Linked DNA regions of Homo sapiens: regions 1, 3 and 4 are each linked to region 2. Evidence: fine-mapped expression QTL. A gene starts in region 2. Each other region holds a variant in brackets. All regions are shown on one strand. Distances are between the middles of the regions. Region 1 overlaps UBE2J1 (ubiquitin conjugating enzyme E2 J1). Region 2 holds the start of GABRR2 (gamma-aminobutyric acid type A receptor subunit rho2). Region 3 holds the start of UBE2J1 (ubiquitin conjugating enzyme E2 J1). Region 4 overlaps UBE2J1 (ubiquitin conjugating enzyme E2 J1).

Region 1 (8,015 bases), 18 kb after region 2:
GCCTTTTAATAGTTTTATTAATATATTTAGAAAAACAATCCCTTAAAACATTGGTCTAGATGATATTTTAACACATACGCTTAATGAAAATATGTATATACATATAATGTTTTAATTAGGTTCCTATGTTTCAGATGCCTTTTGTCTCTATTTTTTTAATCATTATTTTTTTAGAGATGGGATCTTGTTACATTGCCCAGGCTGGTCTTGAACTCCTGGGATCAAGCGATCCTCCTGCCTTGGCCTCCCAAAGTGCTGGGATTATAGGCATGAACCAACGTGCCCAGCCTCAGATGCCTTTTGGATGGTATATCACTAACTAAAAATTAAGTGCCTTGATATTATAAAATTCTAAATTTTTTCCTATTTAAAACAATCATACAGCACTTTGGGAGGTTGAGGCAGGAGGACTGCTTGAGCCCAGGCATCTGAGACCAGTCTGGCCAACATAGTGAGACACTATCTCTACAGAAAAATTTTAAAACTTAGCCAGGTGTGGTCATGCCCACCTGTGGTCCTAGCTACTTGGGAGGTTAAGGCAAGAGGATCACTTGAGCTCAGGAGGTTGAGGCTTCGGTGAGCTATGATCACATGCCTGCACTCCAACCTGAGCAACAGAGTGAGACTCTCCCTTAAAAAGATAAAAAATCACATTCTTAGTTAAGTCCCTAGTGATATATATATAAATTTTTCTAGAATAACCAGCATGTGTGAGGGAGTTTTGCTTTTTATTATAAAATGAAATGGCTTATTCAGAACCTCGATCCCTACCCTGGGAAAAGGAGAAAATCTGACAGACTGCAAGAACAAAACTGCCTTCAGTGTTTTTCCCATTTCTACATTTCCCATTGCTTTTTGATGCTAAAATATCTGCATTAAAAAGCAACAGATGGCCTGATGTTATCTGAGGTATTTAGAGTTGTGGCAATCTCTTGCCTCTCCTTCAGGCTAACAACAACAAAAAAATCATAGCTTATCTGGGATTTGATGTATAACATCTCAATTAATTTATATTATACTTAATGTAAAATAACCACCCTTAGCCAAACCAGGTTTCAGTTACTTTCATAGTGGTCAAATTATATAATCATACTCTGAGATAGTTTATATGTAAATATAATTAAAAACTTAACTTGCAATTTTAGACAATTTATTGCTTGTTGGTATTTTCACTAAAAATAGTCTCAATTAATGACCTGTATCTATGAATAAGAATTCTAAGTTTTATGTACTAAATCAAAACAAGAAATACTACTATAATAACATCATTATTTGTACACTCTAATTTACTTAAACTTCTTGATTTATTTAATTGTATTCTTAGCATTTTTTAAAGTACCAATCCTAAGATTCATTCATTCAATCAACAAACAAACATTGGCAATCTACTATATAGAAGGCACTAAGCCAGGCACTGGGGATACAGTGGAGAAGCGGAAAGAGACCCCTGACCCTCACAGAACTTACATTCTGGGAAGAGAGATAGACAATAAATAATTACAAAGTAAATTACAACTGGAATAAGTATAACTGGAATATGTAACAAGGGGACTTAACATAGATTGAAAATACACAAAAGATTTAAATACATCACAAACATTAGGAGGCTGTCCTAAAAGGTGAAAAAAGATTACCACCTTCCTTTTTGTAATAGAATGCTTCTATTAGAAAAAAAACTATGAAATAAAAAGTAATTAGAAAGCTTTTTCAATATCTTGAACTAAAACATATTGACCTTAAAATTAATTCATTGTTTTCCCCTGCAATTCATAAAATTACATTGGGATCACACAAAAATGATTTAAACTCATCGCTACACACTTTTTTCTTGGACCTCCATCTTCAGTCCCCCTAGACTACCACCCTGTTCTTCTTCAACCAACTTTTCTCTGCCCAGCTCACTCTCTGAATAGGAGAGACTCACTCAAGACTATTCACTCCCACTTTACGTACGTTATTGCTGGGTAAAGGGCAAATCTATATTTGCCCAACTTCTATTTCAATTTTCCCTCACCCTTTAAAGTCTTCAATAAACTGGAGAAACAACAACAAAAAAAATGTGACTACTTAACCAAACAATCTGTTACCAAAAAGACTTCCAAAGACAGTTAATCTTTTATATATAGGAAGGAAAATCATTTTTTTCCCATAATCCTTATTTTTTGGCACCAATCCAGTCATATTTTTTAAATCACTCTCTCTGATCACCTAGGCCAAACAATTTCTTAGACAACAGGTCAGGGCACCACTAACAACACTCATAGCATTCATTCTTTTATTCAACAATTATTTATTGGACACTTAGTATATACGAGGTAGCATTGTCCAACAGAATTTTGTGATGATAGTAATGTTTATGTCTACACTGTCCAATATGGTACCCATTAGCCACATGTGGCTATGGAGCACTTGAAATGTGGTGTGACTGAGGAACTGAATTTTAAATTCTACTTGATTTTGATTAAATTTAAATGTAGACACCTGCATGTGGCTGGTGGCTACTGTGTTGGACAGAGCAAGTCTAAGTAAATTTTTGGCTCTACGACTTTATTAAGTCAGTACCTTAATGCAGCTGAACAATCCTGCCAAAAATAGTGTCTATTTAGAAAGTGGCTAACATATGGATATTTTGTTTTATTCAGTCTAACACTATATTAAAATTAACTTTTCAGAGAATCACAGAATTCTGGAGGGACAAGACAAAAATTATTTAATCCAGCCCCATTTAACAAAAAAAGAAAACTGAGGCCAGAAAGCATGAACAACTTGCTCAACATAATAATTCATTAGCGGGACTGATGAGTTAGAATCCAGTTGTTAAGAGAACCAAATTTTTCAGATATTTGATCCAGGATCTTCTCCTCCTATTGCAAACAGTGATAATGATAGAGACATACATATATATTAAAAGATAAGAGCCATACCGATGTACTGGCCGTAGCACCCTGGAATGTTGTAGGTATATCATCTTGTAAATCAGTTAGTGAAAAAGAGTGGTTTAAGTCTGACTCAGAGATAGTCTTTCCAGATGAATTGACTTCTGCCTATAAACAAGATAGACCCAAGAGCAGTGTGACAACAGGAAACAACAGGAAACATACACAATCTACAACCTGCTAAATCCTCTCTGTTGGATTTATTTTAATTGCTAGTTTAATATCTATTATCAGGCAGTTAATCACTGAGCACTCTTGTGTCCAACACTGTACTAGGTATCATAGGAAGAAGCATACACAACACCTGTTCTCAAGAAGCCGTTACTTGATGAGGGACAAAACTAACACCCATGGTTCACAATCCACAATGCTAAAAAGCTCTCAAAACTCAAGGTTTTTTTGGTAATTTTTAGGCAAAGCCTGATATGAGCTGATGTGAACCTATGAATAGTCTTTATCCCACATTAGTGTAAACATTAATCCCACATTAATGTAATATTCCCAGATTTGCTGAAGAAATCCTAATGGATTTGATTATGAGGTGCTGCCCCAGATCGCACGGCAGGTTAGTTAATATATGGTATATGTAAGATCTTTTCTTAAGTCTGAAAAATTCTCATGTACAAAACACATTTGGTCCTGAGATTTTTCAGAAGCAATTTTAAGTGTAATAGGAATCCTCAGAAGGAAGAAAGTAAACATGTTCTGAGCAACTCCTCCTCCAGGCACTACAATAAAAGAGAAGGGAACTGGACCTGGAAAGACAGACAGTCCATAGAGAAGTGGAGAGGGAAGAGGAAGAGAGCATGCTGCTTAATGCAGGTTGACATTTCTGTTTGTGAAGCTAATTAAATTCCAGAAGGATTAAATACTTAATACTTTACGTCTGTATGTATGTATGTATTTATTTATTTATATTTTTTTGAGATGGAGTCTCACTCTGTCACCCAGGCTGGAGTGCAGAGGCACAATCTTGGCTCACTGCAACCTCCACCTTCCAGGTTCAAGCGATTCTCCTGACTCAGCCTCCCAAGTAGCTGGGATTACAGGCACACACCACCATGCCGAGCTAATTTTTTGTATTTTTAGTAGAGACAGGGTTTCACCGTGTTAGCCTGGATGGTCTCAATCTCCTGACCTCGTGATCTGCCTGTCTCGGCCTCCCAAAGTGCTGGGATTACAGGCGTGAGCCACTGCGCCCAGCTAATACCTTCAATAATTAAATATTTAATACTCAAAGTATTAAAATATTATATAATCCTATGTTCGGGTAAAACATATACAGAAAAAAGGGATATATAGGAGGGATGCCAAAATATTAACAGTAGCTATTTCTTGGCGGTGAGATTATGAATGTCATTTTCTTTTTCTTTTTTCTTTTTTTTTTTTTTGAGATGGAGTTTCGCTCTTGTTGCCCAGGCTGGAGTGCAATGGCGCGATCTCGGCTCACCGCAACCTCTGCCTCCCAGGTTCAAGCAATTCTCCTGCCTCAGCCTCCCGAGTAGCTGGGATTACAGGCATGTACCACCATGCTTGGCTAATTTTGTATTTTTAGTAGAGACGGGGTTTCTCCATGTTGAGGCTGGTCTCGAACTCCTGACTTCAGGTGATCCGCCCGCCTTGGCCTCCCAAAGTGCTGGGATTACAGGCGTGAGCCACCGCGCCCGGCCATCATTTTCTTCTTGTTGCTTATCTATATATTCTGTAATAATAGCTAGAATTTATTAAGCACCAGGGACAGTTCTGAATGCAACACATGTATTACATATATTAATTCAATCCTCACAGCAATCCTATGATTTAGGTACCATTATTATTTATAGATAATAAAAAGGCACAAAGTGGTTAATTAATATGTCTGACATCATACTACTAATAAGCAACAGAGCTGGGATTTGAACCCTGGCATTGTATACCAGAGTTCAAGTTTCACTCCCTCACTATTCTATAAAGCTTTCATGAATGTAGTTAGGAATTTTGTAATAAGAAAAACATTCCATGCCAGTATTAAAACATTTCATGTACCCTATACATATATACACCTACTATGTAACCACAGAAATTAAAAATATAAAAATATGAAAAAAGAAAAACATTGGCAAATGTCATATTGTAATAGAACTGCATCGCTTTCCTTTCTATGCAGAATCCAGCAGTAAACAAAAGGGTTGCAAGATTAGCATTTATTTAAGAATTTATAGTACCTTAAAGCTTATTTGCCTAGCCAGTTCTTTGGCTTCTTGGTCAGCTTGGCTTGAATCGCTTCCAGATTTTAAAGGCAACAGGACATCCTTCATGGCAGAGCCACATCCTTCACAACAGAAATCTTGTGATCTAGTAGAAAAAGATTTTTTAAATGAAAATAAATAGTTAAATGTTTAATTCCCTCTCACTGAGACACTCAAATGCTCGATCATTAAACTTAAAAGAAAGGAACACTGGAAAATTCCACATCACATTTATCCACATGCTATGAATTAGAAAATTAATGTAATGATTATAGTCCTGAGACAAGTAAATGTTAGGCTGGCTTTAAAAAAATCCAGGGCTCAGA[T/C]GCTATTTTTTCCAATAAACTATCTAAAGAAAAATAAGTTTTACATCTATACAATGAGAAAATTGTCTATTATACTGTCCTTGAGATCACATATAACAAACCTATTTTAAGGCTGTGAAAAAAGTCCTTTAACAAGATCAAATTATCTGTTAGCAGAAATATATATAAAGCAGTAAAGAAACTAATTAAACATAGAATTTACAGATATTTCTAGGGAAAAAAAAACCCCTCACAAATAGCAGTATAACTTGAAAGACTTGGGAGAACTTGCAGAAAATCCAAAGACTTAATTTATTGCTGATTATACATTAGGTAGAGACTCAGGATATGTCTGTTAACTAGATTATTTTCTAAAATATATTTGTTTTTCCATTTTTCCCTTTGTATTCCAGATATAGTCAAAACTTCCTTGAAGTTTACAAGAGTCCTCTGAGGATATGAATGACTGAAAGTAAACATGCATCATATATAAAACATATATTGTTACACTGTTAAACTTCCTTCTAAAAAATTGTTTTTCATAGTACTTCTAGTTCTATTAAAAAACCTTAGGTCTTGAAGAACATGCTATTTAAAATTATGAAATATCATATAAACAAAATATATGTAAAAGTAGCAATAATTTAGTTTTTCTGTTTGTTTGTTTGTTTGTTTGAGACAGGGTCTCCTCGTTCTATCACCCAGGCTGGAATGCAGTGGTGCAATCATGGCTTGCTGCAGCCTCAACCTCCCAGACCCCAGTGATCTTCCCACTTCAGCCTCCCAAGTAGCTAGGACCACAGGTGTGTGCCACCACACCCCGCTAATTTTTATTTTATTTTATTTTTTTTTTTTATTTCATTTTATTATTATTTTTTTTTTTGTAGAGACAGTGTCTCCCTGTGTTATCCAGATTGGTCCAGAACTCCTAGGCTCAAGCGATCCTCCTGCCTCAGCTTCCCAAAGTCCTGGGATTACAAGCATGAGCCACTGTGCCCAGCCTAATTTAGTATTTATTGATGAGTATTTCTTGTTTTACCAGAAGTGGCACTGTTGACCACACACCTTTGAGAATTGGTTATATACAAATTATTTGCTTCAAAATGTATTCACTTTTAACTGAGTCAGATGAACCTTAAGGGGAGTGTTTATTTTGAATGTATTAGTTTATCCACAATGGTAGCATGCTACCACGGTTGAATGCAAAAATCTTTGTTTTTTTTTTTTGAGACAAGGTCTCAACTCTGTCCCACAGGCTTGAGTGCAGTGGCACAATCATGGCTCACTGCAGTCTCAACCTCCCCAGGTCAAGCAATCCTTCCACCTCAGTCTCTAAGTAGCTGAGACTACAGGCACGTGCCACCACGCCCAGCTAATTTTTGTATTTTTTTGTAGAGCTGCAGTTTCGCCATTTTACCCAGGCTGGTCTCGAACTCCTGAACTCAAGCAATCCACCTGTCTTGGCCTGCCAAAGAGCTGGGATTACAAGTGTGAGCCACCATGCCCGGCCCAAAATCATTTTTTAAAAGGTTTCTATTATAGACTGAGAATCTAGAATATACAGTGAGAAGCCTAGAAGAACAAGAACTCCAGTTCTTTTTTTTTTTTTTTTACCTCGCACATGAAATCAACTGGATAAAGGCATCAAGATAAAAAAACCAACGTAGTAAATCGAATGAAAACAAATACTATGTATTCAAAGTACATAGTGTAATCTATGAAGAGCTGTATAAATAAAGTACATACCCATAGTTTGGAAATAAGGTTTAAAAAGAAAAGTTGCTTATAAGACCAAGAAGTCTACCAAATCTTCCAGATGCTAAAATCTAACTGATTTAGCAAATATCTGTAGAGGGCCTACTCTGGGGTGTGCTAGGGTAAAATATGATATAATTTAATTAACATAATATGTCTGAAGGGTGGTAGGCAGCAGACTCCAGAGCAGAAAAATTATCAACATCAAAAATTAGGTATCAGCACTACTCAAAGAGGGGCTACTCTGAATGGAAGGACTGATCTTGGTCATATAGACAAAAGTGCACCTGCACCTGAAAAAAACAGAGAAGGCATCACTTCTCTGTTTGTGATTGCCACTGGGCAATCACAACTTGATAAAATCTCTTTTGCTTTATTCCAGATCATTTATTAAGCACTTGCTATGAGCTAGATGCAAAGATGGATAAAGTGGATTACCTCTTGGCCCTCAAGAGGTTTGTAATCTTGTGGAAAGCTACAAATAATTGCTCTGGTTCTTTTCCATCTATAATGCCATAGTGGAAACAAATGACTGGTATTGTTTTCCAGGAGAATATATCTCCCACTGAATTTTTTAAAAATAGTGAAATAGTATCAACTACTTTTTAAGACTAGATAGCATTAAATAAATTACTTAGATTCTGGTCACTCCAAGGAAATTATTACAACTGAATTCCTAAAAGAGCAAAACTGAGATAAGATCCTGTAGCTACAGTCACTCAGAAAATAAGTCACATAGTAAGAGGTAGGCCCTACCTCCTAATAGCCATTACCCTGAATACTATTCAGAC
Region 2 (8,077 bases):
TTTAGTACACAGAGACACAAAGCAGCAGAAAATAGGGGCTGGTCTTTGTAAAAGCAGCTGCTGGGCGGAATCATTGTTCTGTGTGCATGCCTTGGCTGGGGTGAGGCAGGGAAGGCTTCCAGGTTCAAAGAAGTCTTCACAGTGTGCATGTGTGAGGGTGACCATGTGCATAGTGTGTGCCCGTGAAGTCACATATGTGGCATGCGGTATGTGTGTGAGTGTGACCGTGTGTGTGAACAGGACTTCTAAGAAAAGGAGCAATCCTAAAGAGAGAAAGCACTCTAAGACTGTAATCAGAAGGGGTCTGGTCATTTTCTTATTTGTTCGTATAGCTTGACACCTGCGTGTCAATAATGAAAGTAATTTGGAAAAATAAATTGTCAGAGGCTTGGCTGAAATGTTCACAAGGAGGCGTCACCCTGTTGACTGTCTGACTGTGTGTGCATTCTCATGGATGCAGAAAGGCCCAGAACCACATTCCCTGTCCTTTTCCCCCAGCCTCAGTTTAATAAATATTTTACTTCCTTGAAATGTATGTGTTCATCTTTTCCCACTTTAACACCTCATGGGCTGGATTTCAACAAAGTCTCCTCCCCACTAAGAGTCAGAGCCCAGCTGTGCCCAGGCTCATGCGCGGGTTTGGGAATGAGACTGTGGACTTCTGAGGAAAAGTGAGACGGAGGTGCCGCCAAGCCCAGGCTGCTGAGTGGGGTCCCTGGGCACCCCAAGGGACTTGTGCTGAACCCCAGTTCTTACAGAATAGACAGTTTTGAACAGATTTTCCTCCAGTCTAAGTAAATCAGGAACCTACATTCTAGTGTTGGGAAGCCACTAGCAGGCCGTGTGACTTACTCATGCCCCTGAGCCATTTCAGCATCTGTCAAATGAGTTGACTTGGACAGTTTCCCAGTGTGTGCTCCATGGAGTAGGAATCCCACAAGACAGTCCAAAAAACTGTGGATTTTTTAGTTGTTTCTGAGAAGCCCTGCATAATTTATCCCTCTCTTCAAGATTCTCACAGTGCCTATTTGCATAACAAAGGTTCTAAAAGTTCTGCTGTAGAGACATCTGTTGAAAATGGTCTAAACCAGGGTTTTCCACGTTTTGGTGGCCCTGGAACCCCATTTCACTCAACAGCCATTCACGTTTCCCAAAATTAGAGTTCAGGGGACTTGCTGGGCCGATGACATCTGAGGCTCCTTCCAGTTTAACAGCCTATGGTTCTGGCAACCCAACCCGCATGGGTTGTTCAGAGCAGGGCCTCTGAGGGTTTTGATCTGTTTGCCTTCCGCTGAGTAGGACTAGGCTCCAGAGAGAGTAATTATAGGCTGGGTGTGGTGGCTTCTGCCTGTAATCCTAGCACTTTGGGAGGCCAAGGTGGGTGGATCACTTGAGGTCAGAAGTTTGAGACCAGCCTGGCCAACATGGTGAAACCCTGTCTCTACTAAAAATACAAAAATTAGCCAGGCATGCTGGTGCACGCCTGTAATCCCAGCTACTCGGGAGGCTGAGGCAGGAGAATCGCTTGAACCCGGGAGGTGGAGGTTGCAGTGAGCCAAGATTGCGCCACTGCACTCCAGCCTGGGTGACAGAGAGTCCATCTCAAAAAACAAACAAACAAATAAACAAAAGAGAGTAATAACCTCTCCCAGAGCAGCAGTTGCCACTGGGATACTGGAAGTAGAGGCTGTAACTCTTATTTATATTCAGGGTTTTTTTTTTTTTTTTCTAAAAATAAGAAATCAATTAAACTTTAACATACATATTTATAACAGCACATGTATGTGATTTGTAAGTAAATATGCATGTATTAGAGGTACAGTTTCAAAAACTTGTCATTGACAGCAGCGCATGTTCAAAAATGTTTGGGGACTGACCTAGAAAATGTGCCTCAAGATATTAATTTATATTCAAAACCACTAGTTTATCTGATGCTTAGTAGAATGGAAAATAAATGTGTAACATGCCACACATGGTGTTTATATCTTAGCTGCTTGTTCTTTTCTTATCTCCATGTCTAACAGTCCTTATGTCTACTTCAGGCCTGGAGTATGATGCTTCGTATGTCAATTCAAAATAAACTTCCTAAGGAACTTAGATTTGTAATGTAATGATTTTGAATGCAGATCCTGGGCTATTATTTCTTGGGAATGTCTCCATTACATCATGAAATTGCATTCACTGTTGTTCACACATATATTTCTGATAATTAAGCAAATTTCTGAACACCTCTTCTAAGATTCAAAACAGTAAAATGAAACCCAATATCATTATAAAGTTATTCTCTGGCAAATAATTTAAGGAAGACAACTCCCGTATGCATTTTTTTCTTAATAGTTCAGGCTAGGTTCCTATATACAGTTCTCCCCAAAATACTTGAGTGTAATTATTTAGCAGGTCATCGGTTGTAACCCTGAGAAACAAAGCAGCACAATGTGATTTGTACAGAGAATGATTTTACCCACTACGTCTCCAACTATTTATATCTGCCTCAAATCAAAATGCTTTGGCTGAACGCAGGCATCCGAAGGAAGGCTCATCCCAGTCTAGTTCTGCTCTCAATGCTTGTGACACATAGAGTATGTGTGCCCAGGGAGAGGCTGCGTTCAGTGAAGTAGCTGGGTTCTCATTCTCATAGGGCGATATCTCAATAGGACCTTAGCCCCCTGGGGAGCCATCCCACTGTGCCACTGCTGCTGCTACTATGCAGGGTAACCTCCCTCCTTTCCCACCTATGACTTTACCTTGGCTTGGGCATTTCCACCTGCCCTGTCCATCGCTTCCTCTTGGGTTTTCTGCTCTCCACGAGAACCATCAAGCAAAACAAGAACAAAATGAGTCTTGTAAAATAAGGCATTTTGTGGACATCTGTGAGGCAAAAAGCTGCTTTCCAGTAGCCTGTGGCAGAGCAAATCCCCCCTGGCTTGACCATTGATCCATCTGCTGCCTCCTGACGGGCTGCTCTGAGGGGCTGTGAGGGCAAGGCTGGCCAGGCTAGTTGTCCCGATTTACTATTTGATACTGACGCCCCACTCACCCCCTCCACTCCGGGCCATGACACAAACACCAGGCTTTGCCCTCCCTGCTGATTAGTGATTGGCCATTAGTCGAGAAGTTTGTCCTCATGAAATTCTGCTTCCACTGAATCCTAGAATAGCTTTGGCTAAAGCTGTTATATAAAAAATTAAATCTCTTGAACATGCCAGCTTTGTGCTGAGATTATTGGTCCATCTTCTGGCTGCATAAAACCAGTCTGTCCCATCCACCAGGGGGTCAGCTCGGATTCCAAGTAGATTTGCAGAGAGGACTTGGTGGACATTTAGATGGGTACATAAATGTGTTCAGGAAATGCTGAGTAAACATGAATGACCTGTTTCCTTAGGGTTGATTTATTTATGGAGCTAAGAGAATATGCTTTGCCTATGAGCAAGGATACTTCCTTTCTCACAAATATAGATCAACTTTTTCCAGTGAAAACATCAAAGCATAAAATACATTTTTAGTTTCAAGGATGACATTAATCATAGAATTCATGATTATGTAAGCTTTTCTTCCTACCATAAGCATTAAATTAACTTTGGCCTTTAACCCTAAAATGTATAAAATCAATCATAAATTAGGCTTTATTCCTATCCTGGGATATGGAATTAAGCACATTAGAATTGTAGAGATACATGTGGTTATGTCTAACCTACTGAACAAAATAGAATATGTTTAAAAACTACTCATTGCTTGCTATGTCCTGGCAATGGAAAATTTCATGGTAGAAACATAGGGAGATGAGGACAGAGATCAGGAGGTGGGATAGCCGTAAGTGAAACAGAATTGGGATTTTACTATGTATAAATGACAGAATCAAAAGAAGCTCTTTGATTCCCTTAAGCAAAGTGAGATGGCATGATCTACTTTATTTTTGAAATAATTCCTAATTGGGATCAGTCGAATCAGGGAACTTATGATGACAAAAGAGAATAAGGTCCTGCTCTGAGGGAAGCGAAGAAGGAAGAAGAGAAAGGAAGACAGAAGAGTGAGATACTCAAGTTAGTTCTGCGGTAGCATACATTTGGTGCCTGTGCAGATAGAGTAGAAGGTGAGAGACAGAAAAGTCAACAATAATATCAAGAATTCTACGGTGGCTCACACTTGTAATCCCAGCACTTTGGCAGAGGCAGGTGGATTACCTGAGGTCAGAAGTTCAAGACCAGCCTGGCCAACGTGGTGAAACCCCATTTCTACTAAAAATACAAAAATTAGCCAGGTGTGGTGGTACGTGCCTGTTAATCCCAGCTATTCAGGAGGCTGAGGCAGGAGAATCACTTGAACCTGGGAGGCAGAGGCTGCAGTGAGCCAAGATCACACCACTGCACTCCAGCCTGGGCGACAGAGCATGACTCCGTCTCCAAAAAAAAAAAAAAAAAAAAAAAAGCTAGAGCATGAGCCTGGAGTTCAGGAGAAAGTCTAGTTCTATTTCTAGACTATAGAAATAGATCTGGAGCTGTAGAGACCAAGTGAAAGTTTTCCCTTTGCCCCATGGAGGATCACCAAAAAATCAACTGACAAAAGGAAGATTAATAGGGGAAAAGGCATACAGATTTATTAACATGCATGGAGGAAAATCACATCATGATTACCCAATTACCCAGCATGGTACAGACATTTATATACCCTTTTTCATAAGGAAGAGATGGGGGATGTAGGCAATTCTTTTGAGGGACAGTAAATCATTAGGGAGGATGAATGGACCCAGGAGGAAAGTGAGGGGTGGAACTACACAGGAACTAAAGTTGTCTTATACAGATAAAGTCCAACAGGTAATCTCTTAAAGCTGCCCTCAGAAGACTAGATGAAAAGTCTATCTGGGTGCAGTGAGAACTCCCAGTCTCTTCTCTTCTCAGATGGTTGATTTTTCCTGGTTATTTTGTGAGATCCCTAGGTAGGGGGTCTTAAGTGCATTTAAACTTTCTTAGATAGGGAAATTCCAGAGAGTCCCTCCCAGTTCTTTGTGCAAGAAGAGCAGAGAGCCTGACCAATCAGTAGGTTAACAAAGAAATTCAGACAGAAATTTAAAAACTTTTTGAAATGAAAAAAAGTACAGCATACCAAAGCCTGTGGCATATAACAAAAGCAGTGCTAAGAGAGAAATTTACAGTATTCAATGCCCATATCAAAAAAGTAGAAAGATCACAAACTAACAAACTCCTATGGCACCTCAAGGAACGAGAAAAGCAGAAGAAACCAAACCCTGAGTTAGCAGAATAAAAGGAATAACAAAGATCAGAGCAGAACTAAATGAAATAGAGACCAATAAAACGATACAAAGGATCAATAAAAAAAAAAGTTGTTTTTTTGAAAAGATAAAGAAAATTGACAAACCACTAGCTAGACTAACCAAGAAAAGAAGAGAGAAGCTCCAAATAAACACAATCAGAAATGAAAAGGGAGACATTACAAATGATACCACAGAAATACAAAAGATCATCAGAGTCTGTTATGAACAGCTTTATGCTCACAAACTAGAAAACCTAGAGGAAATGAATACATTTCTGGAAACACATAATCTCCTGAGATTGAACCAGGAAGAAATAGACCTCCTGAACAGACCAATAACAAGTAGCAAGATTGAATCAGTAATAAAAAAAATCTCCCAAAAACTAAAATAGTCCAGGACCAGATGGATTTACAGACAAATTCTACCAAACATACAAAGAACTAAAACCAATCCTCCTGAAACTATTCCAAAAAATCAAGGAGGAGGGAATTCTCCCTAACTCATTCTATGGGACCAGTATCACCCTGATACCAAAACCAGACAAGGACACAACAACAACAAAAAAAACTACAGACCAATATTCCCAATGAATATAGATGCAAAAAATCCTCAACAAAATACCACAAATTGAAAACAACAGCACATCAAAAAGTTTATACACCATGATGAGGTACGATTTATCCCAAGGATACAAGGATGGTTCAACATACACAAGTCAATAAACATGATACATCACATAAACAGAATTAAGGAAAACTATGTGGTCATCTCAATAGATGCAGAGAAAGTGTTCGATAAAATTCAGCTTCCCTTCATCATAAAAATTCTCAACAAACTAGGCATAGAAGGAAGATATCTCAACATAATAAAGCTCATATATGACAAACCCACAGCCAACATCATACTTAATGGGGGAAAGTTGAAAACATTCTAAGAAGTGGAAGAAGACAAGGATGCCCACTTTCACCACTCTTATTTAATATAGTACTGGAAGTCCTCACCAGACCAATCAGGCAAGAGAAAGAAATAAAAAACTTCTAAATTGGAAAAGAGAAAGTCAAATTATCCGTGTTTGCTGATGATATGATCTTGTTTCTAGAAAACCCTAAAAACTCCACAAAATCCAACCATGGAGGATGATGAAAAATTAAAAAAGACTCCATAAAAGCCCTCTTAGATTTGATAAATGAATTTTGTAAAGTTTCACAATACAAAATTAATGTACAGAAATCAGTAGTGTTCCCACACACCAGTAAAGATCTAGCCAAGGACCAAATTAAGAAGGCAATCTCTTTTACAATAGCTACAAAAATAAAATAAAATACCTAGGAATATATTTAACCAAGGAGGTGAAAGATCTCTTTAAGAACTACAAAACACTTATGAAAGAAATCCTAGATGACACAAACAAAAATGAAAAAACATCCCATGCTCAAGGATTGGCAGGATCAATATCATTGAAATGGCCATACTGCCCAAAGCAATCTACAGATTCAATGCATTCCCTATCAAATTATCAAAATCATTTTTCACAGAATTAGAAAAAAAAAATTCTAAAATTCACATAGAATCCAAAAGAGCCTGAATAGCCAAACCAATCCTAAGCAAAAAGAACAAAGCTAGAGGTTTTACCTGACTTCAATTATGCTACAAGGCTGTAGTAACCAAAGCAGCATAATACTGATATAAAAATCAACACATAGATCAATGGAACAGAATATACAATCCAGAAATAAAGCCACATACCTACGGCCTGGGCAAATAATTTATGACCAAGTCCTCAAAAGCCAGTGCAACAAAACCAAAAATAGACAAACGGGGCCTAACTAAACTCAAAAGCTTCCTGCACAGCAAAAGAAACAATCAACAGAGTACACAGACAACCCATAGAGTAAGAAAAAATATTTGCAAACTATGCATCAAAGGGCTAATATCCAGAATCTACAAAGAACTCAACAACAACAACAACAAAAACAAGTAACTCCATTAAAAAGTGGGCAAAGGACAAGAACATTTTTCAAATGAAGACACACAAGCAGCAACAAGCATATAAAATAAAATGCTCAACATCACTAACCATCATAGAAATGCAAATTAAAACCACAATGAGGTACCATTTTGCACTAGTCAGAATGGCTATTATTATAAAGTCTAAAAACAAAAGATGTTCACGAGAATGCAGAGAAAAGGGAATACTTATACACTGTTGGTGGGAATGTGAATTTGTACAACCTCTATGGAAAACAGAATGGATAGTTCTCAAAGAACTAAAAATAGAACAACTATTCAATTCAGCAGTTCCACTACTAGGTATATACCCAAAAGATATCAAAAAATACTGCACTCATATGTAACAGAGCAGGAGCTTCACCATCTTGGACAAACACCACCATTTTAAATTTCCCTTGATTAAAAAACAAAACAAAACTGCCTAAATCCAGCCCCAAAACATCAGCCTAATGGCTAACGTCAGAATAACCAGAAACATTCCAACCCCTAAGATAAACCCGCTCCAACCAGAAACATGCCAACCCGGAGATAGCTTCCTCTCTAACCAGAGACATTTCAACCCCACAGTAACCTTTTCCTCACATAGAAACACTCTGAACCTACAATAAGCTCCCCTCTTCCTAAACCCTTAAATATCCTTAGTCTGTAAGAGAGAACACTCCTGACCAAAAATCGGCCAGAAGCCCCTCTCAGGTTTATTCTCCAAAATAAACCTGTCTTTGACTGTTGAGCCACTTTTCATGTTTCTTTCCTTTTTCTTTAACTCTTACAATACGTTTATCACTGCACTATTTACGA
Region 3 (8,352 bases), 34 kb after region 2:
CATGCCTATAATCCCAGCTACTAGGGAGGCTGAGGCAGGAGAATCGCTTAAACCCAGGAAGTGGAGGCTGCAGTGAGCTGAGATCGTGCTGTTGCACTCCAGCCTGGGCAACAAGAGCGAAACTACGTCTAAAAAAAAAAAAAAAAGCCCTCCAGGCCGGAGGGCAGTGGTACGAACACAGCTCACTCACTGAAGCCTCAACCTCCCAAGCTCATGCAGTCCTCCCACCTTGGCCTCCCCAATAGCTGAGACCACAGGCATGCACCACCATGCCTGGCTAATTTTTAAATTTTTTGTAGAGCTGGGGTCCCCCTGTCTTGCCCAGGCTGGTCTCGGGCAATCCTCCTACCTCAGCCTTCCAAAGTGCTGAGATTACAGGCGGGAATCAGCATGCCTGGCCAAAAAAAAGTTGTTACTATCCTACTTCACAATTATTAATATTCTTTTCCATTTCTTACTCTGAACTAAGCCCCTATATGCAGAGACTTTGTTCACTGGATCATCAACTATTTCTTGAGTTCCTACTAGGTACTAGATGCTACAGCTTCATGCGTAAACAAAATATGGCTTTGGTCACTAAAGACTGACGGCTGGGAGGTGCAGTCAATACAAAACAGAATGATAAATGCTATATTAGAAATATGTACATACTGAGACACCCTCTCCCTCCAAGTCTAGAGACTGGGCTTTGGTCAATTCCCTGAACACACTTTACCTCCCCTCCACTCTCAGCCTTTCTATACAGCTTTCCTCAGGGCCCAGGCTGCTCCGGCCCCATCCTCCGCCTCACCGTCTAGTCTGGCTACCCTAGACCTTTAAGTAACTTCTCAGGAATGTCTCTATGACACCTTCCCTGGTTGCCCCCTGCCCCCCACCCCCTACAGTGCTTGGAGATTTCAATCTGGGCAGATCAAAATCTCTGAGGCGTCCTAGGGAGGGGTAGAGACTAGGAATGCTCTCTGAATTACTCTGGTTAGGTTTAGAAACCACTGCCCTAGAGACCAGGTTGAGTCTCCTTGCTCTATGCCATCATAACACTGTATTTTTCCTCTTATGAAGTTCATCTCACTTGTAATTACTTGTTTAATATCTGTTTTTCCTGCTAAGCAATAGTAATGACAGTGTAGCTGTAGCAGTACAGTCTCCTCAGGGCTTAGCACATGGTAAGTACTCAAATATTAGTTGAATTAAATTTTACTATCTTCTCTCAACATAGCTCTCAGAATCCGATTAAAGGCAATGGTTTTTAAACTTACTTAATAAAACAATTAAACTTATTTAATAAAACAAAATCCTTCATTCAAAGAAAGCTTAATGAGAACCCCAACAGGTGAAACAAAAACCACAGAGCCGCTTTGGTTGCAGAGGCCAGTGGAAGGGCCTGCGGACTATCTACTCCCTGTCCTTCCATTTCACTCCTGAAGGGACCCATAGAACAAAGATGGAAAACCCTGCTTTAAAGCCACATAAACATATCATTCCTTTAAGTTAATATTATTAGATAGAAATGCAATTATGGAAGCTGTTATGAAGTTAATTAGTTTGGAGATGCCAAAAAGATTGTTTTTCCTTCATTCCTCGTCAACTGGCTGAACTCAATAATGATTAAGCTGAAGTCAGATTTTATGTCATTCTATACCCTTATCGCATTTTCTCTGCCTCTTCCCTACTCAGTTCAGTTCAACAGGAGAGAAGAAAATAAACACTCAAAACTTGTACCTGGATATTATGAGAGATGTATAAAGGGTCAGAATTGTTATAAGAATGTATCTGTACCAATCCTGTAAAGGAACAATCATTGGTTCAACAGCTAAATAGCTAATTAGTTCATAAGTCACTCAGGCACATACCATGTAAGAGCTAAGGTCATGTAGCCAAAAGGTGAGATTAGTCTCTTGTTTCCATAAGCTATTTTTTTTGCAAAAATAACATATATTATGAATGCTTCAGTGAAAAGAAACAGGGACTCGATTTAGAGCTGCATTAAAATTCTGACTCTGACATTTTGTAGCTCTAAGTCCTTGAACAAGTCACTTGATCTGATGTTTACATCTGTCAAATAAGAGTCAATAATTTCTCCACAAAATTCTCCTTTCCTTTTCACCCCTCCTTCCTGCCCAGTCCCTGAGTCATTAAGGTTGAAAATGGACTGGTATATAAGGCCTTCTCAATGATTCTTCCTAACTCAAAACCATGCCTCAGCAGATTTCGCTGGCCTTATGATATGGCTCCCTGGCTCCTGAGGAGAAATACCACTGTTAGGAAACAGTCATGGTTCACAGTGCTGCCTGGCAACCGGGCTACAGCATAGTCTGCCCCTCCTGATACTCCATCTCTTGCTTCTACATGGCTAGAGAGGAAACTTTTATTCCAGCTCCTCTCCTATCTCTTGGAAAGGTTTTTCCATGGAATCCTTTCACTGTGGTGAGATAAGATGTGCCAGGAAAGGAAGGGGTGGCACCTGGATGCCTGCTCTTGTTCTTCTTTCTTATAGAGGCCACATGGACACTCTGGAGCCATGCTCTAGGTGCTGTGGGCCTAGGCATTAGCATTCTTCACACACCTTGGCTAGCTCACTAGCCTCACATTGGGGTTTGTATACAGCTAAAAATAAAGGGATCTTCTACAGGCCACTGCTTCCCATATATGGATTCCTCTTCAAAAGCAATTATCTTGATATTATCAATTCCCAAAGCATGAGTGAAATGCAGGAGACAGGTATATTAAGGAAGGCATGCTCCCTAACTGCCTCTTCCTGCTCCCATAATGAAGGTACTTAAGCAAATGCCTACAGAGTGATGTTTCTGCCCAGGAGGACCCTGCAAATGTATCAGTTCAACAAACATTTAAAGAATGTCTGAGTGTTGGAGATAAAACAATGACCAAGACCTGCTTCTTGTCTTCCGTAACAGTCAGTAGAGAAAGACATGAAAATAATTACAACCAAGTGGTAATATTGACCAAGTATATATGTACAAGTATATATAGGAACTACTTTAGTCTGCCTAGGGGAGCTAGACAAGGCTGAACCTTAAAGCTTGAAGAACTATAGGAATTTCAGATGGATTTAAAGGAAGGCATTCTAAGCAGAGGTTCCAACAGGAACCAAAGCACCTAAGTGAGAAAAGCTACTCCAGCTAGAGAGTCATTCAGGCAAAATGGATAGGTAAAAA[C/T]GCAGGCCTGGTGCAGTGGCTCTCACCTGTAATCTCACCACTTTGGGAAGCCAAGGTGGAGGGAACACTTGAGCTCAGGCGTTTGAGACCAGCCTGGGCAACATGGTGAAACCCTCGTCTCTACAAAAAATACACAAATTAGCTGGGTGTGGTGGCACACACCTGTGGTCCCTGCTACTCGGGAGGCAGAGGTGGAAGAATCACTTCAGCCCAGGAGGTTGAGGCTGTAGTGAGCTGTGATGGCACCACTGCACTCCAGGCTGGGAGACCCTGCCTCAAAAAAAAAGAAAATGAGGAAGAGCATAAGAGTGGTGGACAGTGAGGCTGGTGAGGAAGGGCAGGGTCAATCATGAGCAGCCCTGTAGGCCAAGCTAAGCAGTTTACTTTGAACTTTATTGACAGCTATCAGAAAGCTACTGAAAATTTTTCAATTTGGGGGTAATCAGTTTTTGTTTTGATTGATCTGGTGACAACAGTGACTGATTAGATATATGTGTTTCTGTGTGTGTATTGAGTTGTGTGTTTCAGGGCAGGGATGGAGCAAGGAAGCGACCAAGAAATAAAAAATGACTCCCATAGGTGCCTGAGTGCTGTCTATCCCTGAGATATGAAATACTAGGGTAAACTGCAAGTTTAGGGGAGGAGAAGAAAACTGATGAGTTTTGTCTTTATACTTACAGAGATTTTTTTCACTCTATGGGAAATGAAGATGTTGAGTCACCATAAGTTCTGTGTATCTATAGCTTACGAGAAGGGCCTGAGTTGGACATGAAACCTTGAGTGGATTAGTGGGAAGGTGCAGTTGACACCAATGGCATGGATAGGTAACTCTTAGACTTCTGGTGGAGGCAGTGGGTACTTTTGCACCAGTCTCTTATACTCCCACCACCTGCTGCACATGTCAATGGCCCCCTGATGAAGAAGCTGCCAAAGGAGGTGCTTTATACACATTTCTTCACTTTGTACTATAAGACCCTACTTCCTTGGCCAGAGCAGACCCAAACACGGGTCAAGTAGCTTGATCCATAGACAACTATTGACAGATTATAGACAAGTAGCATGATCCATAGACAACTACTGCTACTACAGTAGCAGATCCATAGACAACTACTGACAACTACCACAGACAACTACTGTGAGGTGATCCTACACAACAGCTCTATCCATAATCACAAGTCCATTCCAAAAAAAAACCATAAAGCAAAAAGTTTCCCCACCTATGAAATGAAAAAATTTACTATATCCACATGCTAGTACACTGGCCCTTAACCAGCTATCTGTATTGTCTTCACTTAATCTTTCCACTCATACATCAAAGACAATCCCACATCAGATAAAGAGTAAAAGATTATATCCCTCACATTGTGTGGTTGTTTTTTGTTTGTCTGGTATGTTGGTATTTTACGTGTGTGTGTGTGTGCACCCTGCCATACACAGGAAATTGGAGTTTTCAGTTGCTCCCCTTCACACAGGCATTACTCTAAAAATACCACAGGACTGAGAATAAAGCAAAGGAAGGAAGTATTTTCACAATGCCTCCCAGCATTTTCAGTAAGTCCCATATCTTACCTAATTCAACTTCTCCATGAACTCCAAATAATTCACACACTAACAAAAATAGATTTTTAAGAAGCATTGTGTTTTTTTTTTTAGAGCAGCAACACTATCTTTGAGGAAATGAAACCAGAAAAAGGAAGCAATTTATGACACAGCTAGAAGCATGTCAACCAAAGCTCAACCAGCTGACAATAGTTCACATACTTTGGAAATATACAAAATTCTGGAGATTTTTAAAAGCTTATCATCATAGTATTAAGTCTAACCTATCGAAATTGAGCGATGTTTTCTGACAACAATCTCTTGGGTTCCACCAGTTCTCCATTCTAAACTGCACTACTACTCACATGTGCATTATCCTCTGGACCTTTCACTAAGCACCTCTGCTGTCCTAAGGAACCGTGTGACCAGGGAGCCACCATACATTTTTACCCAAACAGCTCCAGTTAAATATACCACAATGTAAATAATTCAATCATTTTACCATCTAGCTTAAAAATTAAGCTTTTCTTTCCCTCTTTCTCTTTGGTCTTTTCTTCCTCCCTCCCCACCCCGGGATTCTCTTTTTTTTTTTTTTTTTTTTTTTTTTTTTTGAGATGGAGTCTCGCTCTGTCGCCCACACTGGAGTGCAGTGGCGCGATCTCGGCTCACTGCAACCTCCTCCCCGGGTCAAGCCATCCTCCTGCCTCAGCCTCCCGAGTGGCTGGAACTACAGGAGTGCGCCACCACCATGCCCGGCTGATTTTTGTGTTTTTAGTAGAGACGGGGTTTCACCATGTTGGCCAGGCTGCTCTCCACCTCCTGGGCTCAAGCCTCCCAAAGTGCTGGGATTACAAGCGTGTGCCACCGTGCCAGGTCTTCATCAGATTTTTTTAAGGAGTCAGTGGCTCCTAAAATATTATGACCAGTTCTACACACTTGGTCACCTAAGGACATTTCTTAGCCTGACAGCACTCAGGCTAACAAAGCTCCCTCCAATCAATATCCTCAGGCTTTTCTGGGGTTTTTGCATATTCTGAAACCTTACAAAAAACCCAAAGATTCACAGTGTCAACTCTTTCCACAAGGATGCTAGTCTTGCTAATTCCTACTGAGAAACAGCTTTTTTTGGAAGGAAATTTTAAGCAACAGCAAAAGTTGGTGAAATCATCACTAATATCCTAGAGTTTATCATGCAGAGTTAACTGTGGAGTTTCTTCCCCCTGACAAAATGTATCAAGGTACAGATAGAAAAAATACCATTTAGAGGATCCAATGATTCATTTCAAGCCTGTTTTATTAAGCTGAGAAAGCTAGTTGCTTATCTTTATAATGCACCAGAAAGTAATTAGAGGCTAGGATTGCTGGGACTGCTTGTGTAAATATAAAGCAGGATCATTAAATGCAGGAAAGGAATCGCTACGACTGAATACAGATACATTTCATATTAGCCAGTCTGGCAAAAATCAAGGTTAGCTCTCAAGAACAGGGCTCAACGAGGTGTTTTTTTGTTGTTGTTTTGTTTTGCTTTAGCTCTATAGTTAACTGGTTTAGTTACAGAACATTTCCTTTATGTCTGTAATTGTATTCGCCCAAGTGCTGCAAATAGGATATTTAAACGACCAACTCCTCAAATGTGAGTAAATCAGCCGGCAGTAAATAGAAGTAAATAGAAGTCCGGTGGCAGCGACAGGGAGGGAATAGCGACCAGGTACAGCGAGGGGGTTGATGACTATCGCCCACCGACATCACCTTTACACCTGTTCTCAGGGATGAGTTTCTGACCCAGCTCTACGGGACCAGGCGAAGATGAGAAAAGGGAGAGGCTGGGTGCTGCGGGGCGCGCTGGCCGGCCGGGGGATTGGCAGCGGACGTCCACCCGGCCACCTCGCCCTGCGGCCTGTACTTCCCGGGCAGGCGGCGGTCTCGCGTAGAGCGCGAAACCAGGAGCTGAGCCGCGAGTGGCGCCAGACGCGAGGGGACCGAGGCGGCGACCACCCCGGGGTCCAGGGTCACTCCGCCCTCCTCGCCCAGGGGCCCCAGCCCTGCTCACCCGGACTCTTCAGGTTGTAGCGGGTCTCCATGGTGGGTCGCTGGCTTGGCTCCGGCCTCCCGGGCCGCTGCCACCTCCTCTCCACGCGGCCGCTGCCCGGGTCTCAGCGCGGCTCGGGCGGACGGGGCCTGGCCGAGGAGCCTCGGCAAATGCCGCCCAGTCCAGCCTGGACTGCGGGCGGGGTGGCAAGGCTGAGTGCGGGCGAGGCGCTCGCTTCGCGATGGCGCCGCCTCCTCCACTGCGCCCCCGCCTCCCTGAGTGCCTGGCAGGCACCGGCGCCGGCCGGGGCGGCGCTGAACCGGGCGCCCGGGCTGGAGGTCAGCCTCCTCGGGTAGTCGCAGGCCCAGCCCTGCCGCGGCCGCCCGGCTTGCGTCACCCGCCCTCGTCCGGGATTTGTGAAGTTGCCCTGACGTGGCAGTAGCTTCGTGGCGGTCGGTCACTACCCAGCCGCCGCCCGCCCGGCGAAGCCGGCTTGGGGAGGTGCAGGAGCGAGCGGCGTCCTCGTCCTCTCGTCCCGGCCCTGCCCGCTGTAGGCGAGGTCCGGGACCCCCGGGCCCTCGAGAGCTCGGAGGGGGCGCCGGGCTCCGGCTGCAAAGCTGTCCGCAGCCGGCTGCCCGCGCGCGGTCCCGCAGGGTCTGGGAAAGGCTTTGTTTTTAGATTCAGTTGCTGTTGCGAGGGGCGGGGGTTAAGTGAGGAGGGGGAAAGCCAGTGACAAGGAAATGGAATAGGATTTTTTTTATTTTTTATTTTGTGTGTGTGTGTGACGGTGTCACCGCTCTGTCGCCCAGGCTGGGATGCAGTGGCGCGATCTTGGCTCACTGCAGCCTCTACCTCCCGGGCCCAAGCGATCCTCCCACCTCAGCCTCCAGCGTGGCTGGGACCACAGGTGTGTGCCACCATGCCCGGTTAATTTTTTGTATTTTTGTTAGAGACACGGTTTCACCGTGTTGGCCAGGCTCGTCTCGAACTCCTGGACTCAAGCGATCCGCCCGCCTCGGCCTTCCAAAGTGCTGGGGTTACAGGCGTGAGCCACGGCTCTGGCCAGAGTTGGATATTCATAACAATTTTTTTCTCGGGTAGTGTGTTAGGTGCACGACATGTTTTAGGCATTGCAGGAGTTTTGTTTTTTTTGGTTTGTTTAGATGTAAAAGCTGTCAAAAAAAGGAATTACATTTAATGTGAGGGAAAGCATACAAATATGAAAGGTTAAACTTCAAAGGACACACTTACTGCTTCATTGTCCAATGTGTGGGATCGAGAGAGGACTGAGTTCAAAAGACTTAAGGAGTAGGGACCTTACTAAAGGAAAGGAGGGAGGGATTGGGAAGGTGGGGAGGATAGAAAGGGTTAATCAGGTTGGGCAAGTTTTATTCTGTTATATAAAGACATAAACTCTTAAATTTGATTTGTTTTCTATTGTTAAAGTTAATCTAAATCTGTGAGTTTCTTGATGAAATTGGGAGTAAAAAAGTGAAGGATATCTAAAATTAGATGGTATATTTTAAATCATTCCCTGATGTTGTTTTCTGTATAGTAAACTGATAATCTGACTGACTGAGATATGCAAACAAAACCAAACTCCAATGCTGC
Region 4 (5,588 bases), 26 kb after region 2:
AGGAGGGGAGGAGAGGGGGGGAGGGGGGAGGAGAGGGGATGGGGGAGGAGAGAGGGGAGGGGAGGGGGGAAGGGAGGGAAGTGGGGAGGGGAGGGGGGAAGGGATGGGGAGGGAAGAGGGGTGGGGAGGGGAAGGGGGAAGGAGAGGGGGGAAGGAGAGGGGAGGGGGAAGGGGAGGAGGGAAGGAGTGGGGGAGGGGAGGGGAGGGGAGAGGATTTACTAATGTCCTACCCTGTGCCTAGTATGGAGCTAGGCTCAGTTAAGAATCTAAAAGAGGCCAGGCATGGTGACTCATGTCTGTAATCCCAGCACTTGGGAGGCTAAGGTAGGAAGGTCACTTGAGGCCAGGAGTTTGAGACCAGCCTGGGCAACAAAGTGAAACCCTGTCTCTACAAAAAATAAAAATAAAAAAAATTTAGCCAAGCGTGGTATGTGTGACTATAGTCTCAGCTACTCAGGAGGCTGACGTGGGAGGATCATTTGAGTGTGGGACATCAAGGCTGCAGTGAGCTGTGATCATGCTATTGGACTCCAGCCTGGGTGACAGAGTGAGACCCTATCTCAAGTTAAAAAAAAAAAAAGAATCTAAAAGAGAAGACATTCAAGAGGCCAGGACGAAACCTAAGGACTCAGTATCACCTAACTAGATGTTAGTGAGGAAAGACATGGGGAGAAAGGCTCTGAGAGAGGTGTGATTTTCAGAGGAGTGATGAATGAAAGGATAAATAAATACTTATTGAATGAAAGTTGGAGAAGACTTTTCAAAAAAGAAGTGAACCAGAAAGAGTGTAATGTTGAAAATCAGGGCTGATTCTCAGCCAGTGTGGTTAGTATGACCATACCATTGGCTAACTATTGAAATATACCTGTATTTGTTGGTAAAGAGCTGCTGCTAACTACTGTCCTCCACCACCACCAGTCTCCCCATGCACCAGCCCCTCCCTCCCCGAAGACCACTTAGCTCTCCCCATGATCTAGCAACTAAATAAAATGACTCCTGACACAGTAGAGTGTCTCCAGGACCCTGCTCCAACTCTACTGCCAGCATTAGCAGTTCTCTATATCAGCTAATACTTATTAAGCAGCTTCTATATGTCAGGTACTTTATGGTGTGATTACAATTACCAAACACAACATTCATTTTGACTGATGAGAAAACAATTTTAAAGACATTGTGTAACCCACCCATAGTGTAATGGAAAGAGCACCAGTCAGAATCTAGGCCTATTGGCTCTTAAACAAATGTTCTCTCTGTTATACAAAATAGAGGTAAAAGCAGCATTAATTTGGTATTTATTTATTTATTTATTTATTTATTTATGTTTTTTTTTTTTGAGATGGAGTCTCGCTCTGTCGCCCAGGCTGGACTGCGGACTGCAGTGGCGCAATCTCGGCTCACTGCAAGCTCCGCTTCCCGGGTTCACGCCATTCTCCTGCCTCAGCCTCCCGAGTAGCTGGGACTACAGGCGCCCGCCACCGCGCCCGGCTAATTTTTTGTATTTTTAGTAGAGACGGGGTTTCACCTTGTTAGCCAGGATGGTCTCGATCTCCTGACCTCATGATCCACCCGCCTCGGCCTCCCAAAGTGCTGGGATTACAGGCGTGAGCCACCGCGCCCGGCCTAATTTGGTATTTATTGATGAATACCTGTTGTTTCACCATTTGCTACTCCGTGTGGGTAAGATGTTTAACTGAGAACAGGATGAAGGCTGAGGAGAAGCAGTGAGATTTCTCAAACTGGTCTCTGAGATTGGTGTAGTTTCATGTTTCAACAGGGCACTATGTGTGGAAGGTGGACTGCAGCAGGCCAAACTACGGAAAGGATGCCTTGGAGGTTACCAAAGAGAAAAATAGGCACAGCTTAAAGTGATAACAGATACAGGGAATGGTTTTTGTGTTTGTTTTTGCTTTTTTCAAGGTTAGGGGATAATTAAACATAGTTAAAGGAAATGAGAGAAGAAAAGCTTAACAATTAAAGAGGAATTAGATCAATAGTTTTCCTTGGCCAGGTATGATGGTGACACCTGTCATCCTAGCACTTTGGGAGGCTGAGATGGGAGGACTGCCTGAGGCCAGTAGTTCAAGACCAATGAGACCATGTCTCTACCAAAAAACTTTTTAATTAGCTGGGTGCAGTGGCATGTGCCTATAGTCCCAGCTACTCAGGAGGCTGAGGTGGGAGGATAGCTTGAGCCCAGGAGTTTGAGGCTACAGTGAGCTATGATCGTGCTACTGCGCTCCAGCCTGGGCAACAGAGAAAGACCGTGTCTCTTAAAAAAAAAAAAAAGTTTTCCTTCACATGAAGAAAAGATGTGTAAATTTGGAGAGAAAGAGAGAAAATCTGAGATATAAACAGTAATAATAATGCTAACACTTATTGAGTATTCTGTGTCAGGCTCTATTCTAAGAGCTATACAATAAGATCTTGATACTTTTCATCCCACATAAACTCAATGAGGTAGGTATCATTATTCTCATTGTAAAGATGAGAAAACTGAGGAAGAGAGTGTAAGAAAGGTGGGAAGTTAAAGGAGACAATATGATTACAAGGTACAATAACATTAGCTACCCTTTAGTGAGTACTTATGAAGTGCCAGATGTGTATGCCCAGCACTTGGCATATATTAATTCATTGAATCCTAACAACCATGATATGACATTTATGCATTCAGTTGTATCATTTTTACTTCTCAGATGCATCAGCTTCCTAGGAATTATTTTGGAGGAAAAAAATTGTAGTCCC[A/G]GGGCCTGGACCCCAAAAGCAAAATTATACTGTTCTATTATTTCTTAATGAAAATGATTTGCTTACTATATTTTGCAGCTACCAGGAAGAGTGAAGCCACAAGCACTCTAAAAATCCAAAATTCTTACCGTTAGGAGAATAATGCTTGGTGGTTTCATGGGATACTCTGGTGGCAGTACTATCCGCCCGTGATAAACTCCTCCATCAAAATCGGAGTCTGGGGGCCCTCTAACCGTGAAGTGCCATTCAAAAAGGTTATCCTGAACAAAAACAATAATCCACAAGGAATTAATAATATTGAAAAGTTTGATCATTTTATCTGAATATTAGAAATATTACCAAGCAAGAAAAATTAAATGCTTTATATTATTGCTAGTATAGTTTCTAATGCATGAGATGTCTCGAGACTATAAGTGATAAATTAAATTTATAAGTAAAAGCTATTTAATCTAGCTTTCATGTTCCATTGAGCTAAAATATTTTATAATAAACACATTAAAAATTTCTGAGTGTTGTTATATATTCATAAGTAACTTACAGGTTTAAATTGGAAATTAATCCTTGAAAGAATAGCAAATTATGATAATTATATAATCAAAAAATTACTATGTTTGGGTTATTTTAACAAATCTTTAAAAATTATCCCTTATAGATGCCTAAGAGCTTATTTATAAAATGGTAATACTAATGTATTTAATGTCATCTTACAGTTACCATGTACTTTTCAGTTTACAAAATACTTGCACTTAAGTTATGATATTTTTATTCCCACTGTTACCATGAAAACCTGCCTGGGTATATTTAAATACCCTCCTTTTACAAATGAGAAGACTGAGAGAGGCCGAGATGTTTATACAAAAAGCCTTGAGTAGCTACGGAGACCCATCAAAAGGCTTCCAAACTGTAAAGTATCTGGGGTTCTTTCCACCTCCCCTCCCTCAGACTCAAGATCTAACCTCGGCCGGGTGCAGTGGCTCACGCCTGTAATCCCAGCACTTTGGGAGGCCAAGGCGGGTGGATCACGAGGTCAGGAGTTTGAGACCAGCCTGACCAACATGGTGAAACCCTGTCTCTACTAAAAATACAAAAATTAGCCGGGCGTGGTGGTGGGGGCCTGTAATCCCAGCTATTCAGGAGGCTGAGGCAGGAGAATTGCTTGAACCTGGGAGGTAGAGGTTGCAGTGAGCCGAGATCACATCACTGCACTCCAGCCTGGGCAACACAGTGAGACTCCGCCTCAAAAAAAAAAAAAAAAAAAAAAAGATCTAACCTCAACTTAGCATCTGAGACCCATTTTATAAAGACCACAAAATCCGTTTCTTCTAAAGTGATTTGGAATGGCTAATGAAATATTCATGAAATATGGTGAATAAAACGTCAAACTACATCACACACATCTGTAATGACTCAAAGCAATGAAAAGCAATTTTAAAAAATTTGTTTTAAATATTAAAATCCATATGAAGAACATGGAGATAGAAACTAACCTCTAAAGGCTGCGCATGGTAATGATCTGTTGGATCTTTCAATTCTGCCGCTTCTTTCATTAAACGTTTAACAGCTAAAATAAAATTCATAAAATAGAGATATTTAAAATATACTTTTCTGAATGATTAGCACAGTCTTACGAGCCTAATGAAAAAATGTGTAGAGAACTAGTGCAAATGAGCATATGGCAAAGGTTTAATTATAAGATTATGGGAATAAATAGAGGGGGAGAGGAAGGAAACAGTTGCTAGGCATTAACACTTTAAAAGAGTTATATATTAAATATATAGTGAAGACACTATTTTTATTTAATAAGTACTTATATATACTTCCTATATGGTGGTATTTATTGAAGTGCTTTTACAGACATTAATAACTCATTTAACCCTTAATACAACATTACTAGATAGGTATTATTTTTATCCCCATTTTCCAGATGAAGAAGCCGAGACACGGAGAGATTATATAGTCACACAGCTAGTAAATGACAGAGATGGGATTCCAACACAGGCAATTTGGCTCTACCTGTTAAAATGTCTTTATTAACAAAAAATGTATTCTCTGGATCTCATGCTCGGTGAACAGGAAACACCTCTATATCCTCCAACTCTTGGGACTTTCCATCCACTATCTTGCATTAAATGAATGGACTGTCCCCTGAATTCACTGACTCTCCAAAGCCCCGATGAAATTCCTTCTTGAAATGATCCTTCAGCTTCACTAAAACCTCCAGTCCACTGACCCCACAACTTTCTTCACCCCTCCTATACTTATATTCATTTTCCTCTTTATCCACACCCTTGGCTCTTAGGAGTCCCTCTTGTACACTCCCTTAATAAAATCCAACTGTGCCTGACCCAACCCAACCATCTTATTTGCTGTCTATACCCAAACAGCTGAGCATCACTGAAAGGAGGAAAAAAAGTCAGAGAGGATGGTGCAGTAATGCCATTACAAGTCATTACCAACAACCTCTACTGGGATACAATGCCACCTAATGTCCCCACATTTCTCTAGTAGGCCTTCCAGCCTACTCTTTCCACCTAGCACTCCAAGATTATTTCCCACCTAGTCTAATTTCTCCTCTCTTTCAGTTAATGGCACCCAGCTTTTTATCTCCCTGATGAATGACTGCTAGCAGGAGCTGCTCAGATGCCTATCACAATCTACAATCCTATCTGTATCTGCACCCTCTGTCTTCTATTGGCTCTCAAAATTCAATCCTTTGATATGCACTCTGGATCCCAACCCCTCTCATTTCAAGCTTTTGGTGCTAAAACATGTCAGGATACTGCAGTGGGATGGCTGAGTTAGGGAAAAGGCTTCTCAAAACTGGGTTTGCAACCACTGATGTAGCT

What was found. PIP is the estimated chance that this variant, and not a neighbour inherited with it, causes the effect.
Region 1: its variant is the best candidate, but not a certain one, in a credible set for the expression of GABRR2 in thyroid (GTEx, PIP 0.67).
Region 3: its variant is the best candidate, but not a certain one, in a credible set for the expression of GABRR2 in whole blood (TOPMed, PIP 0.69).
Region 4: its variant is the best candidate, but not a certain one, in a credible set for the expression of GABRR2 in skeletal muscle (GTEx, PIP 0.75).

The regions. Positions count from the first base shown.
Region 1 is chr6:89,330,162-89,338,176 of GRCh38, forward strand. UBE2J1 (ubiquitin conjugating enzyme E2 J1) reads right to left here. Exons shown (of 8, transcript NM_016021.3): 6 at 5,141-5,270; 7 at 2,925-3,044. Among named protein-coding and RNA genes, the nearest start is that of UBE2J1, 19 kb to the right of the region's middle. The variant T/C (reference allele first, on the strand shown) is at 5,491.
Region 2 is chr6:89,312,309-89,320,385 of GRCh38, forward strand. It overlaps GABRR2 (gamma-aminobutyric acid type A receptor subunit rho2), which reads right to left and starts at 2,991. Exons shown (of 9, transcript NM_002043.5): 1 at 2,745-2,991. The coding sequence starts at 2,857.
Region 3 is chr6:89,345,777-89,354,128 of GRCh38, forward strand. UBE2J1 (ubiquitin conjugating enzyme E2 J1) reads right to left here and starts at 6,946. Exons shown (of 8, transcript NM_016021.3): 1 at 6,763-6,946. The coding sequence starts at 6,793. RefSeq lists an enhancer at 6,252-7,201 and silencers at 6,498-6,557, 6,588-7,297, 7,308-7,407. The variant C/T (reference allele first, on the strand shown) is at 3,174.
Region 4 is chr6:89,339,454-89,345,041 of GRCh38, forward strand. UBE2J1 (ubiquitin conjugating enzyme E2 J1) reads right to left here. Exons shown (of 8, transcript NM_016021.3): 2 at 4,230-4,303; 3 at 2,871-3,002. Among named protein-coding and RNA genes, the nearest start is that of UBE2J1, 10 kb to the right of the region's middle. The variant A/G (reference allele first, on the strand shown) is at 2,743.